Homo sapiens: one gene and its partner. The protein of the gene in region 2 purifies or fractionates together with the protein of the main gene of each other region. This does not show direct contact. Each region holds a gene or a part of one and is shown on either strand. Other genes may lie near its edges.

What was found. The genes of interacting proteins can lie anywhere in the genome.
Region 1: the proteins of MX1 (region 2) and BCS1L purify together in Homo sapiens (affinity purification with mass spectrometry; 2 studies listed by BioGRID and IntAct, with this or other methods). This does not show direct contact.

What each region holds. Positions count from the first base shown.
Region 1 is NC_000002.12:218,657,769-218,661,514, forward strand, and holds the start of BCS1L (mitochondrial chaperone BCS1), read left to right. Parts: upstream 1-1,914; 5' UTR 1,915-1,975; exon of another isoform or gene 1,976-3,170; 5' UTR 3,171-3,219; coding exon 3,220-3,539; intron 3,540-3,637; coding exon 3,638-3,746. UniProt on the Homo sapiens protein: Chaperone necessary for the incorporation of Rieske iron-sulfur protein UQCRFS1 into the mitochondrial respiratory chain complex III.
Region 2 is NC_000021.9:41,424,351-41,428,096, reverse strand, and holds the start of MX1 (interferon-induced GTP-binding protein Mx1), read right to left. Parts: upstream 1,859-3,746; 5' UTR 1,834-1,858; exon of another isoform or gene 1,551-1,833; intron 892-1,550; 5' UTR 793-891; intron 343-792; 5' UTR 231-342; intron 1-230.

The sequences.
Region 1 (3,746 bases), on a different chromosome or scaffold from region 2:
TAAGGGCACTCTGTACACAGCCCTATCAGAAACGAGGTCACACTGCACTGTTGTTTACCTGTCAGTCTCTCTCCCTAGATGTATAGCTTTTTTAGTAATTTGTTGACATTATCACTTCAATGATATTACTTTGTGATACTGACATTATCACTTCAACGAACACAAATCACCCACAATCGAAGATTCCAGTGAAGAACCACAGATATGGAGCTGCATTGGAGTAAAGCTAGGTATCTTGTACAAAACCAGTGGTTCCTCACCTATAACGTAACACATTTGGAGAAATTTCAAACTCATTAACTGACTATGGCCTCAAACTAAATATGGGAACATAACTGAGGAATGAATGACAATTGAATTGCATACCCTGTTATACATGGCTAAAATGAGTTTAAGCTGAATAATTAGTAATTAATAAGAATGATGGGAATCACTTCATGAAATTGAGTCACAGACAAGATGCAAAAAGAAAAAAAGAAGAAGAAACCAGGCCGGGCGCGGTGGCTCAGGCCTGTAATCCCAGCACTTTGGGAGGCCAAGGCGGGCCGATCACCTGAGGTCAGAAGTTCGAGACCAGCCTGGCGAACATTGTGAAACCCTGTTTCTACTAAAAATACAAAAAATCAGCAGGGTGTGGTGGCACACGCCTGTAATCCCAGCTACTCGGGAGGCTGAGGCAGGAGAATCGCTGGAACCCGGGAGGCGGAGGTTGCAGTGAGCCGAGATCGCACCATTGCACCCCAGCTTGGGCAACAAGAGCGAAACTCCGTCTCAAAAAAAAAACAAACAAAAACCAAGATCCTGCAATCTGATAGTCCCTATTTCCAGAATCCCATGGACTCAAAACAACAGATCACAGGGATTCACAAGGTGGCTGGAAAGTGCACTCCCGTGGTCAGAGGGATTCTCTGGAAACTGCAGCCTCCACTTACTGAATATTATCGCTGTTCTGGGGAATCTTCAAGCTTGACCATACATGGCCTCCGGGGGGAGCCAAGGAGGACGCTGAGCCGTCAAGATTAAGAACCTTCACCTGCGGGAGGGCAGGGTGAGGTAGGAGACAGGTGGGCACCAGAGAAGAAATACGCTTATCTTCCGGGCAGGAGGGCTGAGGAAGAGAAAGGACAGACTAAGGCAGAGAGAAGGCCTGGAGAAACAACGGGCCCCGGCCTAGCGACCCAGGTTCCCACCTGCCTCTGGCTCTGACTCACCGCGTGGTCTTGGACAGACACAGTCGCTTCGCTTCTCTGGGCCTCAGCTTTCCTATCTGTAAAATGGAGGTGATGACAGTGTCCACATCGTCGGGCAGGAGCTGGATCATAAGAGCCAGCGAACTGGAAAGGCGGTTTGTAACCTGGAAGGCTTGGGATGGAGCATCGTCATGATTTTGTCCTGAGAGCAGCAGGTACCCGGGCGGGGTCCAGAACCGTGACGCGACTGCAGCGCCGGGGCCCAGCTCGTCTGGGTGCTCCCTTCAGTACCTCCTTCCGAGAGTTCCCAGCGCCCAGGCCCACCCTGATCCCGGGGCTCGAAAAACTTTGCCTCCAGCTCGCTCCACCCGCATTCCCTTCCCAGTTCCGCCCCGCAGCCGCTCACTCACCTCCAGACCCAGAGCCGGCGGGAGCCGCATCTCTATGGTCGGCCGCGGCTGGAACGGCCCCCGGGGCCCGCTTTGTGCGACCGCCTCCGGCTCAGCCGCCTCTAGGATATTGGGGATGTGGAAGCCACTCTCTCTTCCTCTTGCCGGCTGCCGGGGTACTCTATGTTTTGTCTCTGTGGTTTTTCCCGCCCTCCACCCCCACTCCAGCCCTGAAGCCGGAGAAGCACCATCGAGAGCTCTGGGGTAGAGTGGCGTGGGCTTCTCTGTGGGTGTGGCGGGAAGTAGATGAAAGGACCCGGGGCGGGGCCGAACGCAGCTTCCCCAAGGTGCAGGCGCGGTGAAACCATCGAGACGGAGGGCCAGAGAGTCACGGCGGTGAGAGGGCTGAGTGACGGGTTACCCCAAACCATGTGGCTGGAGGCGCGAGCTGGGGTGTGGGCGAGGTTCAGGAGGGGGTTCCTGGGTGTCGCGGAGGGGCCGGGGACGGGAGAGCTTTGTCTGTGGCCTTCCATGCATAGGTGTTTTGGAATTCTGGATCCCAGTTCTGAGGCTCAGCCGAGGTCACTGCTGTCAGCTCACCTCCCTGCATGCCAGGCGCAGGGCAAAGTGGCCGGGGTTCGGGGTTGGAGGAGAGGTGTACTAGAAACAACTTTGCTCTTGTCCCTCAGGATCTTATTGTCTACGATGTGACGATCCGTGGAGAAAGTAGCAGATGGGCAGATTTTCATTTGGGGAGAATGAGGGAGAAAAGAACGGGCATTCCGAGCCAAGAGCACTGCATGAGCAAGGAGTTGGGAGGTTGCTTACTTGTTGAACATATTTGTTGCGTATTTGCATATTTGCTAAACAGGTAGTGTTAGGAGCTAATCCATGAAAGGTAGGTGGGCGCCGTATTGTAGAGAGCCTTGAGTACCAGGCTGAGTTTATACCCAATTCAGGGGTCTGCTGGGAGCCAGCCATTGAAGGTGCTGGAGCAGAGAGAGATATGGTATTGGAGCTGATCCCTATGATGAAAGATCTGGACCCTTGTGTAGATGTTCCGTGAAGCAGGAGGTGAAGACCTATTAAAATGCCATTTCAAGAACTACGATTTTAAAGACAGTTTAGGTGGGAGGTAATAAAGGTCTAAACAAGACGTTAAATATTGGGGACGTAAGGGGGAGGATATTTGAAGGACATTACTCATAACAAGACATAGGGTTACTGACAAGTCAACGGACGCTTCTCCCTTGCTGACTGCAGCCAATGGACCCCTTTTTATCATAGCTGGTCCCAGGGACCACAAAAATCCTGTCCATCCATTACCCTGATGTGAAGCCTGTTTATATAGCTCTTTTTGGTTTAAGGCATCTCCAGACATGGTCCTCTGGTAGGAAACAGGTATGAGTAGACTAATGAAGGACAAAATGGGATGAGGGACCTGGAGCCTCCACCCTTGCATTCCAATACCACCCTTACCCCACAAAAGGAGGGTATTGACCCACACAGTAATGCTGACCTGTGGCCAGGGCTGGGGAGGTCCAATTTCTAATCTGTGCTTTGTCCCATCTCCACTGTTCCCCACCCCTAGGTTTTCGTAACACCCCAGGGCCTGTAAGGTTTGGTGTTTCCCTTTCAAGATGCCACTTTCAGACTTTATTCTGGCTCTGAAGGACAATCCCTACTTTGGGGCTGGATTTGGGCTGGTGGGTGTGGGCACAGCCCTGGCCCTGGCCCGGAAGGGTGTCCAACTGGGCCTGGTGGCATTCCGGCGCCATTACATGATCACACTGGAAGTCCCTGCTCGAGACAGGAGCTATGCCTGGTTGCTTAGCTGGCTCACCCGCCACAGTACCCGTACTCAGCACCTCAGTGTCGAGACTTCGTACCTTCAGCATGAGAGTGGCCGCATTTCCACTAAGTTTGAATTTGTCCCCAGCCCTGGAAACCATTTTATCTGGTAAGGTGGGGAGCTAGGGAGGGCTGTGAGAGTAGAAAAGAATGATGGGAGCTGGGTTTGACCCATTCACTCACTCAGTTTTGATCGTTCTTATTCAGGTATCGGGGGAAATGGATTCGGGTAGAACGAAGTCGAGAGATGCAGATGATAGACTTGCAGACGGGGACTCCTTGGGAATCTGTCACCTTCACGGCCCTGGGCACTGAC
Region 2 (3,746 bases):
CTGTCTCTACTAAACACATACAAATTAGCCAGGTGTGGTGATGTGTGCCTGTAATCCCAGCTACTCAGGAGACTGAGGCACCAGAATCGCTTGAACCTGGGAGGCGGGGGTTGCAGTGAGCTGAGATGGCGCCACTGCACTCCAGCCTGGGCGACAGAGTGAGACCTTGTCTCAAAAAAAAGAAAGAAAGAAAAGAAAGAACCCAACGGCCCACTTCATTTCTGCCTTACCTTGGAATGGTGGCTGGATGGCGGCGTTCTTCACTCCAGATTTCAGGGAGTGGGAGTCTTCCTGTAGCCTCCGACCCAGAACCGATCTCCTCGCAGTGTGGCCACAGAATTCCTGCAGTGAGGGTAAAGGTGGCATCCAGGGTTGTCAGGGGGTTCTCTCCTTGTGGTGAAGCTTCCTCAGCTCAGACCCCATAGAGGAGCAGGGATGGGAGGTAGGATTCAGCCCCCTTCCTCTCCCAAAACTCCTAATAAGGACCACCTACTGCCTACGTTCTAGGAAATGCCTAAGATGGAAGAGGCTACACTTTCCCAACATAATCCAGTCTAGTTTTTTCTTTTTTTATAAGCTTTTAAGTTCTGGGGTACATGTGCAGAACGTGCAGGTTTGTTACATAGGTATACATGTGCCAATTCAGTCTAGTTTTAAAACTAACTCTTGCAGGACTGACATTCACCTTTTCTTCTGAAAGCGTTTTTCCCCCCAAACCCTGCTGGTATTTAAATTTGTTATGAATAAAAGAGAGAACATCTTGCCCTTTAGACCAAATGCACTGCTACCTACCAAAGCCCCTGAGCTGGGTGAGCAGGTGGGCGGCAAGGGCGCGAGGGAGGCGTGTCCACCGTGACACTGGGATTCCTGGCCGGCAACTGCGGTCCAAGGCTGAAAGATGACACAGCCATTTTAGGAGCCCTTTGGGACTGACACCGGTGGTGGAGGTAGAGGCGCGGTTAGCATCACTGGACTCTACTTCCCAGTAACAAACGTGATTTAAAATTTAACCAAATAACTTGGGCCATCCCAATTGCCCAGCTCGGCAGCACCTGCTGTGAGTGTTGGTGGGATGGGAGCGCAGGTCTCAGCTGTGCCCGGGCTCCTTCTGCCACCCCCGGGACTGTCCTGCCTCCCTTCGTCCACCGCACCCACTCCACGATCCCGGCCAACTACGATGGACCCCGAGGGTGCGTCAGCCCCACGCGCCGGGGAGGCCCCAGGCATGGCATCCACTGGGGCGGTGGGGGGGAACAGCGGGCAGGGGTCTTCCCGCGCATGCCCCATCTCGGCCCAGCTCGGAACCCCCTTTATTCAGCAGGATCGGCGAGAACTCCTTGAACCTTCCCTCCCCAGCGACCTCCGCAGTCTGACTTGGGTTTGCTTTCGCGCGTTCCCAGGAAATAGAAGTCGACGGAAAGCAGTGGTCGGCGTTCGGGTGGGCTCGTGGCCCGCGCAGCCGTGGATCTGAAACTTTCCCGGCGCCCTTCCCCGCTTACTAGAGTCCCTCGGAGACCTCCCCCGAGCCCCGTCCCCCACCCCTTCCCAACCTCTCCTGCAGGAAGGCCGCGGGTTAGGGGGATGTTTCTGATGCGTCATCAGGAGCCTGGGCAGCCTGGTGGGAACCAGAATCAGGCGTGCTCCGAGCCCGCCCATCAGCGCCCTTGCTATGATTATGATTATTATTATTGTTAGTTACTAGCAGCCGAGAAGGTGCCCCCGTCGTGCCCGTGCTCCGGAGCGCTAGTCTCCGCCACGAACGCCGCTCTCCCAATGCCCTTCTCCGCGCTCCTAGCGCGGTTACTGGGCGCTGCCCCCAGAAGCGACACTCACCGGTCCCTGCGCAGTGCTGGAGTGCGGCCTCCGCTCTCGCTTCGCCTCTTTCACCCCGCGCCCAGCCCCGCCCCGCGCCGCGAAGAAATGAAACTCACAGACCCTGTGCTGAGGGCGGCTCCGGGCGCAGAAACGAAACCTAGCTCCTGGCCCCGCACCTGCAGCACTTGCCTCGCGGGAACTCGCGGGAGACGCAGGTTCTCGGGCCCGAACCCAGGCCTGCTGAATCAGATGCTCGTTTCATCAGGCCCGTCTGAGGATCAAGGTGCTCCGGAGGCTCCCTAATGGCCCGGAGTCATCCAAGCCTGCACGTATCCTTGAACCTAGGCATGTCCTTCCCCCCGTCGGTTTTGAAAACAGATGCATTGGTAATTGGGGGTCTTCAGTTCCCTCCCAGGGCTCACTGGGATGATCCCAGCACCAGCAGGGACTCCCAGGCATTGTGTGCCAATGGCTGCAGAGCCCCTCTTGTCCCGAACTCCGTCCAGCACTCCCACCCCTAACCAGGCACACCCATACCATCTTCCTCCTTTCCCGTTTCCCCTTGCCCACTTCTAGGCCTCCCTGGAGTCTGGCTCATCTGGCCTCTCCAGGGTGGAAACGGGTGTGTGGAAGGAAAATAAAATAAAATAAATAAAATAGTAATAATAAAGCTTAAAATAATAAACATAACATAGGTAATAGTTGTCAGGCCAGGCCATCGCATCCCAGGCCAGGCCATCGCATCCCCTGTGACTTGCAGGTATACATCCAGATGGCCTAAAGTAACTGAAGATCCACAAAAGAAGTAAAAACAGCCTTAACTGATGACATTCCACCATTGTGATTTGTTCCTGCCCCACCCTAACTGATCAATGTACTTTGTAATCTTCCCCACCCTTAAGAAGGTTATTTGTAATTCTCCCCACCCTTGAGAATGTACTTTGTGAGATTCACCCCTGCCCACCAGAGAACAACCCCCTTTGACTGTAATTTTCCATTACCTTCCCAAATCCTATAAAACGGCCCCACCCCTATCTCCCTTCGCTGACTCTCTTTTCGGACTCAGCCCGCCTGCACCCAGGTGAAATACACAGCCATGTTGCTCACACAAAGCCTGTTTGGTGGTCTCTTCACATGGACGCACATGAAAACAGTTAACATTTAGTATAAGCTATTTAGAAGTAACACATAGGCTAAAATTTTAAGCAGCCCCTCCCAGCATTGTAACAAGTTGCAGATGCAAGCTTATCTCAAAAGCTTATCACCTGCCTCGGGACCCCAGCCTCCAACCCTAGTCCAGCTTGGAGGATGACTAGTCAATATAACTGAATTGCCAGTTTCCTCAGAATTGTCACGGGTTAAGTAATTTACTGTCTTTGTCTGAAACCTGTATCCTACCTTGTTTTTCCCATCTCAAACGACATATAAGCTAGCTGCTTTCTTTGTTGGGGTTGGCAGCCATTTTGGGCATGAGCCTGCTGTTGGCCCGAATTAAAAGTTCTGTTTTGGTCTCCAAAGGTCTCTTTGTCTTCCTTGGCTAGAGTTTTACTGCAAAGGTGAAAGGGGTTGGGGAGGGCTGAGTCAAGCAGACCCATGGGTGGTCCTCCCTTTGGGAGCTCCCATTCTCGGCTAACTGGCTGTGAGTGGGAGATGGCATTTCCCTTTGGGAGCGGTTGGCACCCCACCTCCATTCTCCTTAGCTCAGCTCACAGTCCCTTACAAGCCCCCGCTAAAGACTTCCATGATTAGGAAGGGTCACCCCCAACCAACCTCAAGGCCCAGAACCTGCCCCAGCTTTAGGTCCTGGGGTCAGGGGAAACCTGGATGGAATCAAATTCAATACTGCTGCACCTACAAGAGGGGGAGGAGCCCCCCAGCCAGCTCCCTGTGCTGAAATCTATTTTGCTTTGCAGGATCCACTCCTAGGGCTG